Linked DNA regions of Homo sapiens. The protein of the gene in region 1 interacts with the protein of each later gene in a pairwise test. Each region holds a gene or a part of one and is shown on either strand. Other genes may lie near its edges.

Region 1 (5,011 bases):
TTTCTAACTGGTTCTTTCCCCTTAGCATAAAGCAACCCTCAAATATCTCAGATCTTAACACAAACAAAAAATTTCCCTCTATCTTACCGCCTTCTCTTTTTCCTTCTCGTACCAGGAGAGACTTTAGAAAGTATGTATTGATAGGCCTGGCGCAGTGGCTCACGCCTGTAATCTCAGCACTTTGGGAGGCCAAGGCGGACTGATCACTGGAGGTCAGGAGTTCAAGACCAGCCTGGCCAACATGGTGAAACCCCGTTTCTACTAAAAATGCAAAAATTAGCCAGGCATAGTGGCACGCACCTGTAATCCCAGCTACTTAGGAGGCTGAGGCAGGAGAATAGCTTGAACCTGGGAGGGGAGGCGGAGGTTGCAGTGAGCCAAGATTGCGTCACTACACTCCAGCCTGGGCGACAGAGTGACACTCCATCTCAAAAAAAAAAAAAAAAGCAAGTATGTATACTCAAGTCACTGCAGCCTGACTTTCCATCCTCTTCTCTCCATGGAACAGGTTCTGCCAAAGTCAATAATGGAGTCCTTTTAGTCCCTATTTCACTGGGCCTGTCAGTAGCATTTGATACAATGATTTCTCCTGGGTTTCATGCCTCCACTCTGCTGATGTTCATCCAACTATTTTAGTCTTTGTTTCTTCCCTCCTTTACAAGTTCTCCTGCCCTACCCTGTACCTTAAATAAAGAGTTCCATAGTTTTGCACTGACCTTTTTTCCCCACTCTCACACTCTCTGGGTGATCATATCCATTCCTATGGCTTAAACTACCAATGCACTAATGATTTCATGGTTGCTTTTTCTCCATGACTCCTAATTTTTACAGTTTCCACCAGTCAGTTATTAAACGATATATTCATTCCACCAGTAACATAGAGTAGGCTAAGCTCTTAAGACTTCTTTATCCTATTTCTAGTGATCTTAATTTTTACCTGGTAACATTAGCCGACTGCATTCTGAGGCTTCAGTCACGGGAAGGAGGGACAAGCAAGTAATATCTTTAGCTTCTGATTCTACAAGCCCCTGTCCCAATGGGATGGACGTATTCTGAACAAACTGTACCAGGAGCTGGGGGGAGAAAAGACAACACTGAGAAATACGAGTTGTTAGAAATGTATCTAAACCTTTGAATTTACCAAAAGATAATATTAAGACTGTTCACTAGTCTCATCCATATTCAAACAAAAACTAAACAACATAATATCTAAAGTTATTTTATCAAGTTCTCTGTTCTAGAGAACAGCTGATTTATATAAAGTCATGTGCTGCAAAACGACATTTCAGTTAACAGACCACATATAGGATGATGGTCCTGTGAGATTGTAATATCCTATTTTTATTGTACTTTTTCCACGTTTAGATATGTTTAGATACACAATGTTTACCACTGTGCTTCAACTGCCTACAGTATTCAGTACAGTAACATGCTGTATAGGTTTGCAGCCTAGGGGCAATAAGGTATACCATACAGCCTAGAGTGTAGCAGGCTAAACCATACAGGTTTGTGTAAGTATACTCTACCATGTTCGCATAATAATGATATCAACTACCATCATATTTCTCAGAATGTATCTCTATCGCTAAGTGACACTTCACTGTAATTAAGTTAACCTCTGCCACCTTCTGTCAAACAGAGAAATGATAAAAATAATTACATTTTAAAATAATGGCTTAAAAAAAATCAACTGCATCATATTGATTACATTTTACAAAACACTTTTCTGTGTACTGGCTCATTTAATTATCGCATTAACCCAGTAAGATTTAAGATGTATTTTTTTTTGAGACAGAGTCTTGCTCTGTTGCCCAGGCTGGAGTGCAGTGGCATGATCTTGGCTCACTGCAAGCTCCACCTCCTGGGTTCACGCCATTCTCCTGCCTCAGCCTCCCAAGTAGCTGGGACTACAGGTGCCCGCCACCACGCCCAGCTAATTTTTTTTGTATTTTTAGTAGAGACAGGGTTTCACCATGTTAGGCAGGATGGTCTTGAACTCCTGACCTCATGATCCACCTGCCTCGGCCTCCCAAAGTGCTGGGATTACAGGCGTGAGCCACCGCACCCAAACTTAAGGCATATTTTACAGCTGAGGAATAAAATTGAAGACATTAAGTGACTTGTCTAAGGTCACAAGACTAGTTAGGAGCAATGCCAATCCTCAAATTTAAGTAATCTGATTCCAAATTCAGTGACCACTCTGCAACACAGATGTGCTAAATTTAAAGTAAGAAAAGTGAACAACAAAAAATGTTTAAATCCCCAATCACATTTAGAAAGAAAATACTTACAGATATATATAAAATAAACAAAAGAATTTGTAGTAGTAAATATTTATATACTTATACACCTATACATCACATGTATCTCATATTTATGTATATATTTATACATAAACATATATTTTTATTTATAAGATTTTATTACATTATCTAAATGTATGATTTCACATATACTGAAAAACAGATATAAAAACAATCACAAAAAATATAATTTTTAAATCTTTGAAAAAATAGTAACAATCAAAACCATATAGCTTAAAAAACCTAAAATATTTATTATCTGGCCCATTAAAGAAAAAGTTTGCTGACCCCCTAAACTGAAGATAAACTTTGAAATATAGCCCACCAAAAGAAAAGGAAACAAGCTGACTGGGCTCACCTCTGGTTTGGATTCTAACTCATCTGATAACATTGATTCAGCTTCCAAAACCTGTAGCTATTCAGGGGACAAGTTCAAATTTAATTCAGAGCCAATGATACCTTCCTGTTATGTTCATATTCCTCTAGGAAATACTATGCTCTTCCCGTAAGATGTTGTACTAGGTGGGTAATCAATGTAACCTAGAATAGGGGTAAAAAAGAGAGAGGGGGCATTAAGAGCAGTGGGAAAACACAGGTACATAAAGACACTTCTTTACATATACAAAAAAAATCACAACAAGCAAGCAAATAAAGAATTCAAACCGAAACACTTCTTTTAAAATACAACAAGCTCAACAGGCATCAAAACCCATAAAAATACTACGCTTTGATGCAGTATTTCAACCTCTAATAATCTAAAAAACTATCTTAAATATGGATAGAGCTATGTCCAAAGATGTCCGTCTTATCCTATGTAATAAACAACTGGAAGCAATGTATACACACACACACACCCCCAATTAGGGAATGGTTGATTAAATATGGCACTGTCACTTCAAAATATGCTGTGAAGGGTTGGGTGTGGTGGCTTACAACTGTAATCCCAGCACTTTGATAGGCTGAAGCAGGTGGATCACTTGAGGTCAATAGTTCGAGACCAGCCTGGCCAACATAGTGAAACCCCCTCTCTACTAAAAATACAAAAATTAGCTGAGCATGGTCGCAGGCACCTGTAATCCCAGCTACTCGGGAGACTGAGGCAGGAGAATCCCTTGAACCCAGGAGGTGGAGGTTGCAGTGAGCCAAGGTCAGACCACTGCACTCCAGCCTGGGCGACAGAGCAAGACTCTATCTCAAAAAACAAACCAACAAACAAATGCTATGAAGACAATGCAACAACAAGTGACTGACATGTTAAATTATAAAAATAAAATACAAAATTATATACTTGCTATTATTAAAACTAGTTATAATAAGCATCAGAAAAAGTAAAAGGAGATTCATACAGCTATGACCGTAGCTATACCGTGTGGTAGGCTGGTGTGACTTAATTTTCTTTTCTCAATTTTCCAATATTTCTAAAAGGCAACCATATTGTTTTGATAATTTTTAAAATTACATTTAAAAAAAAAAAAGTTAAAATTTGAAGAGCGTTTCCCAAAGGTAGTGCTCTCAGGACCCTGATGCGGCTGTTCTCTCTCTTTTATTTATTTATTTAGAGATGGAGTTTTGCTCTTGTTGCCCAGGCTGGAGCACAATGGCACGATCTCAGCTCACCACAACCTCTGCCTCCCAGGTTCAAGCAATTCTGCCTCAGACTCCTGGAGTAGCTGGGATTACAGGCATGAGACACCACACCTGGCTAATTTTGTATTTTTAGTAGAGACGGTTTCTCCATGTTGGTCAGGCTGGTCTCGAACTCCCAACTTCAGGTGATCCGCCTGCCGTGGCCTCCCAAAGTGCTGAGATTACAGGTGTGAGCCACTGCGCCCAGCCACTCCCTATAACTTAAATTCTTACTTTCTTATAGCTTAGTTTCTTTTCAGGATTTTGGAATGTGAGTCCATTTTATTTTGTACAATTGTTACTAAAATTGGGAGCACTATTACAAATAATCATACAGTGTAAAATGTATCCAGGATGGGTATATTTTCAATCAATGGGTACTTTAAAGTTTCCAATTAATACCAGGTAGTGTGGAAAGGTAGAACAAGACAGACTTTACAAAGAGGGCACTTAGGCTGGGCACGGTGGCTCACGCCTGTAAACCCAGCACTTTGGGAGGCCGAGGCGGGTGGGTCACCTGAGGTCAGGAGTTCAAGACCAGCCTGGCCAATATGGCGAAACCCCGTCTCTACTAAAAATACAAAAATTAGCCGGGCATGTGGCGGGTGCCTGTAATCCCAGCTACTCGGGAGGCTGTGGCAGGAGAATCGCTTGAACCCGAGAGATGGAGGTTGCAGTGAGCTGAGACTGCGTCACTGTACTCCAGCCTGGGCGACAGAGCAAGACTCCATCTCAAAAAAAAAAAAAAGTAACTGAATAAATGTTTTTTTGTCCTGTTGGTTTCTCCCTCTCTCTTTCTAAGCTACCTGAAATCCTCATTTTTCATTGTAAAAAAGTAACCATTTAGGCCGGGAGCAGTGGCTCACGCCTGTAATCCCAGCATTTTGGGAGGCCGAGGCAGGCGGAACACAAGGTCAGGAGATTGAGACCATCCTGGCCAACATGGTGCAACTCCGTCTCAACTAAAATACAAAAAATTAGCTAGGTGTGGTGGCATGTGCCTGCAGACCCAGCTACTCAGGAGGCTGAGGTAGGGGAATCGCTTGGACCTAGGAGATGGAGATTGCAGTGAGCCGAGATCG
Region 2 (5,011 bases), on another chromosome or scaffold:
TTTTGAGGTCCACAAGAGCCAGAAGCTGGCGGGGCCCTATCACAGCGAACACCCCATACTTATTAACCAAACAACTGATTAAAACTTGCTTTGTCTCCTGAAAGATCGTTCTAATCTGCCAACCTGAGCATTCTGTTCTACTTAATACCTGTTGCCTCTCACTGAAAATTAATAGGCATTCTGGTAATATACCAGTCTCTGAGAGCATACTTAATGAGTCCATCCCACAAAGAGGTCAATTGTCAAATGACAGATTCTCTTTCAGTATCTCCAAGGCACAGATGCCAAACCTAGAGAACTTCTGCTAGCCAGTTAGAAGGCTCACTCTGGAATCACTGTAGCCTCACCTAAAGTCTTCTCATTAAAATACATCAAGAACTTTTAACAGATTAAAAATTAAGATGTGATCCCAAACAAGGAGAATTCATTAATAATTTTATTTTGAATTACAATCTATTATCACTTCAAAAAGAGCCACTTCAGAAAACATCCAACGGATGTTGACTTACCAGTAAAAATGTAAGTCATCAATGTATGATTTATACTACAGAATACATAATAAATTATATTTACATGCAATGACTAGACTATCACACACAAGGTAAAAAAATACAGTATTTTATGTACATTTTAAAAGATTTACATGTTCATATACAATTTATAAAGTTAAAAATTCTCTGTACAAAATCTTACATGTACAGAGTTTATATAAGCCCCATTCTTATGGCTGTATCACCACACAGATTTGCTTAAAACTATAATACTACAAACACTCGGGTTCTTCATATTCAATCTTGGCACCCATATAGCAATACACTATTCTGAAATGTAAATTACAAAGGAAATAAAATGTAATCATGCAGACATTTTTTAATATAAGAAAATGCGATAAAATATACTACACCAGATCAACATTTATCAATTCCATAGATACTGAGTTTTCAACTTACTGCACTGTTTTCATATAAGTACATGCAAAACTAGCAGATTATGGATTTTTAAAGTAACATTAAAATAATACCATAGTTTGACAATACTTGGGCAATAGGAATGAAAACTAAGAGCCCTAGCCTAATTATTTCTGCCTTAACAGAAATCTCAATTAAGACATTACATATATAAAAATCACAGAAATGTCAATATTATAATTCCCAAATTTATAAGATCTGCATCACATCAAATAGACACTGATCATTTAAAAAACAAAACAACAAAAATGTGTTTGACATTTAAGAGCATACTCACTCTTCTGAGAAGGGGGGAGGGTGAAATCTATGATAAACCATTAAGGATTATCCACTGTCCCTGCTAAGGAAGCACTTGCATACTTCCAATCTGCTTAAAGACATCTGAAGGTTTTATAAAATGTTTAAGATAAGCTACACTAGTTATTTTTAAAAATCTTGAAAAGTAACAAATTGAAGGTATCAGCACCTTCCCTCCTCCCCAAAGTAGCTAAAGATCTACGAGAAAAATAAAGTGCCAATGTCTAAAGTACTGTTAATGGTTTAAGAGGCACTACCCCATTTGATGGCTTAGGATAAATATGAAAATAGGCCAGATCTGATCTGAATAACAAATAGAAGGTAGGTATTCCAGTATATTAATTCCTGACTAGATGGGGGCTAAACCAGGAAACTACCTATTCCCCCATTTATTGCTTTGAAACCTGTAAATATAAATTCTGACAGAACAATCAGATTTCTAAGATGGAAAGCACAGTGTTTGTGCCACTTTGAAGTTGAAAAAGAAGGTGCACTCTTGATCACTGGGAGGAGAGCTGCTGAGACTCTCCTCTCCACAACTCATATCTTCACAAGAGTCCTCACTAAAGAGAAAAAGAGACAAAAAAAGAGGATACCATTACTTAAAACACACTTAAATGTTTTATAGCCAAAATAAAGCTGCTATATCTCTAGTGAGGATTTTTATATTCAAAATTTATGCTTTACAGAGACAAAATTTATAAGGACTTCCTAAATGAAGTCTATAGTAATCTCATTGGAAAATATAGATTTTTTGGACTGGGTGCAGTGGCTCATCCCTGTCATCCTAGCACTTTGGGAGGCCGAAGTGTGCAGATCGCTTAATCCCAGGAGTTCAAGACTAGCCTGGGCAACATGGCAAAATCCCATCTCTACAAAAAATATTAATACAAAAATTAGCTGGGCATGGTGGCACATGCAAAAAAAAAAAGAAAGAAAGAAAGAAAATATAGGTTTTCTTAAGTTTAAACAAGTTACTATTTGCCAAACTATTATTCTTGTACCAATTAATAACTATCAGCAAGTATTAGAATTGTAGAATTCTAAGTATTTTAAATCCAGTAATGAAGACTAAAAACAACATACCTCCTAGCATATGGTCTATTTAGATGTATTTCTTGCATCAGTGATTTATTATACCACTTACACTGTCAAATATCAAAGTAAACTAACAAGCTATGAAAATGAAACTTCTGGCCCTTTATCTCTACGGCATAAAACAAACAAATTTAGCAAAGTTATTCACTTTACAAACAAAGTAATCAAATTCTGAATAAGACAACACCAATTGACAAACCTCTGAGAACATATATAGAAGTCTTCCCCATCAGTGGTGGTGATTCCCTTTATTTTCCAGGCACCTACCCCTCAATCTCTTCACCACAGCACAATATTAGGAATTCATACTAACATTACAAAGCCCAGAATTCTTTTTCAGTTTTGTTTTTTTGGGGTTTTTTAGCTGTATTTCAAGAGCAAGGGAAATAGGAGAAAGATGGAAAACAACCACTTTAAAAAGGGAAAAGAGGCCGAGTGCAGTGGCTCACACCTGTAATCTCAGCACTTCGGAGGCTGAGGCAGGAGGATCACTTGAGCCTGGGAGTATGTAAGACCAGCCCTGGGCAACATCGCGAGACCCTATCTCTACTCAAAAAAATATAAAAAAGAAAAAAACTAAAAAAATTGGAGAGGACCTTATAAATCATTACATATTAAAATACTACTTCTGGTTAATTTGCTTACCTGAAGAGTGGGGGCTTTAATTCTTAGCTCTTAGTGTAGGTGCTTGCTTTCTCTGATGTCTTACACTATTCCAGTTCTGAGTATAATAAACTCAGTAATATTTAGTCTAGGGAAGTTTAATTAGTCAAGGAACCTGCCTACCTTTCACTTTCATCAAAACAACCCCCCTCAGGTATCGTTGGCAGCTCAGGAACACTATAGTAGCTGTTGTGGAGGTTCTGGGCTGTGCGCCTTGAAACGATCCAAACCAACTTCTTAAGATCTGGTTTGCAACATTCAGGAGAAGAATACTCGGCTAGGCATTTAGAAACCAACTCTCTCCAGTAGAAGAACTCAGTGTCATTAATCTGAAAAAAAAATATTTTAAGAGGTTACGGCAATGTCTCCCAAATCTTGCTGCACCTTGGAATCACTAGGTGAGCTATGAAAAATATATATATATAGATGCCTGGCTCCCACTACCCGCTTCCACCCCTGGTATTCTGATTTAATTGACAATGAGTGCAACATGGGCATCAAGAGTTTTCTAAGTTCCCTAGGTGATTGTAATGTGCAGCCAAACTTTCAAAATTTGGGAACCACTGGTTTAGGAGAAGAGCACCGTAAGTATAAAACTACATAGGATTCAATACACAGAAAGCTTTGCCTATTCTAAGAAAACACTGACCTAAAAACACTCTGGGTCTGTTAATAAATCAGCTATCAAGTATAGTCCTTAGTCTCAATGCAAAGGAATTTAACATTCCTTTTGTTACAGAAACCAATTTGGGTTCCTGCAACAAGGCATTGTTTGGATTGCTGGTAATACACACTTATAACACCAGATACAAAACTAAAGAAGTTAGTGATATGAGAGAACAGGAATTTCCCAAAAAGGACATAGTTCCGCCACCACTGGGCAGTGCTCCAGTTTATTTCTTTTTTGTTTTTCTTTTTACGTATTTTTTTCCCTCCTCCTTCGGAATGCCTTCAGTTTATTTCAACGAATCAATTTTCACTGAAGATGGTTCCAGCTATCACTATCAATAAAAAGTTCAGATAAAAACTAATAAAATCATAACTAAAGCAAAAAGTTATCTGTTACAAACAAAATGCTTCACATGCACATATTTTCACCAGAAAACAGAAGATCTATTTTCTTGGCTTCCCATTTTCACCTAATGTAGCTACATCCTAACCCACTTGTAATCTGGTTTCTACCACTTCCTTCTCACTGCTCTACTGACATTACCTCTGACACACCCAATGACCTTCAATTTTCATTATATTGGATCTCTTATAAAAATTCAATACTCCTGACCACCTCCTTAAAAACCTCCTTCCAGTCTGACAGTGCTTCTACTTGTGGGGATGTACCTTTCTTCACTTGGCTCCTAATGTTGGGGGGAAAGGCCAACGCTGAAAACCCCAGAGCTTCAACTGACCCCTACAAAAAGGATTCCACAGCTTCTTACCGTTTCAACTACTGCTTCTTCATGAGAAATTCCAAACCTCAATCTCTAACTATAGTTTATCTTCTTATTCCAAAACGCCAAACACCTACTAGACACCCACCTGTGTACACAAGCATCTAAAATCATATTGCTCTCATCACAAATTAACTTCTCCCAAATTTCCTGCCAATTATGCTAATATTATATCCACCATTAGGTACAAATCTTGGTCATTCAAGACTCCTTGCCTCATTTCCATGCTTGGCTTCCAAAACCACTGTTTGAGTTGGACAGCCTTACTCCTGCTTGTGACTACCACCTAGACATTGTACCTGTAAGTCTACCCTAAAATGACTTTTATATCTGTCTAGTCCACCAATTTCTTGGCCGTTAAGCCTTCGCTGAAACTTTCACTGTCAAAGATTCTTTTGCTCCAAACAGGCTCCCAGTCATAGTGTTTCTCCTAGTCTGCCCTATTTCTTTGCTTAAAAAAAACCCAAAGTAAGCCGGGCACAGTGGCTCACGCCTGTAATCCCAGCACTTTGGGAGGCCAAGGCAGGTGGGATCACT

What was found.
Region 2: the proteins of ZNF410 (region 1) and CCNG2 interact in a two-hybrid assay, tested with the Homo sapiens proteins (one large-scale study listed by BioGRID).

What each region holds. Positions count from the first base shown.
Region 1 is NC_000014.9:73,889,859-73,894,869, reverse strand, and holds part of ZNF410 (zinc finger protein 410), read right to left. Parts: intron 2,844-5,011; 5' UTR 2,695-2,843; coding exon 2,662-2,694; intron 1,074-2,661; coding exon 938-1,073; intron 512-937; coding exon of another isoform or gene 461-511; intron 1-460. UniProt on the Homo sapiens protein: Transcription factor that binds to the sequence motif 5'-CATCCCATAATA-3', and is specifically required to silence expression of fetal hemoglobin in adult erythroid cells.
Region 2 is NC_000004.12:77,162,618-77,167,628, reverse strand, and holds part of CCNG2 (cyclin-G2), read right to left. Parts: intron 3,356-5,011; coding exon 3,150-3,355; intron 1,829-3,149; coding exon 1,705-1,828; 3' UTR 1-1,704. UniProt on the Homo sapiens protein: May play a role in growth regulation and in negative regulation of cell cycle progression.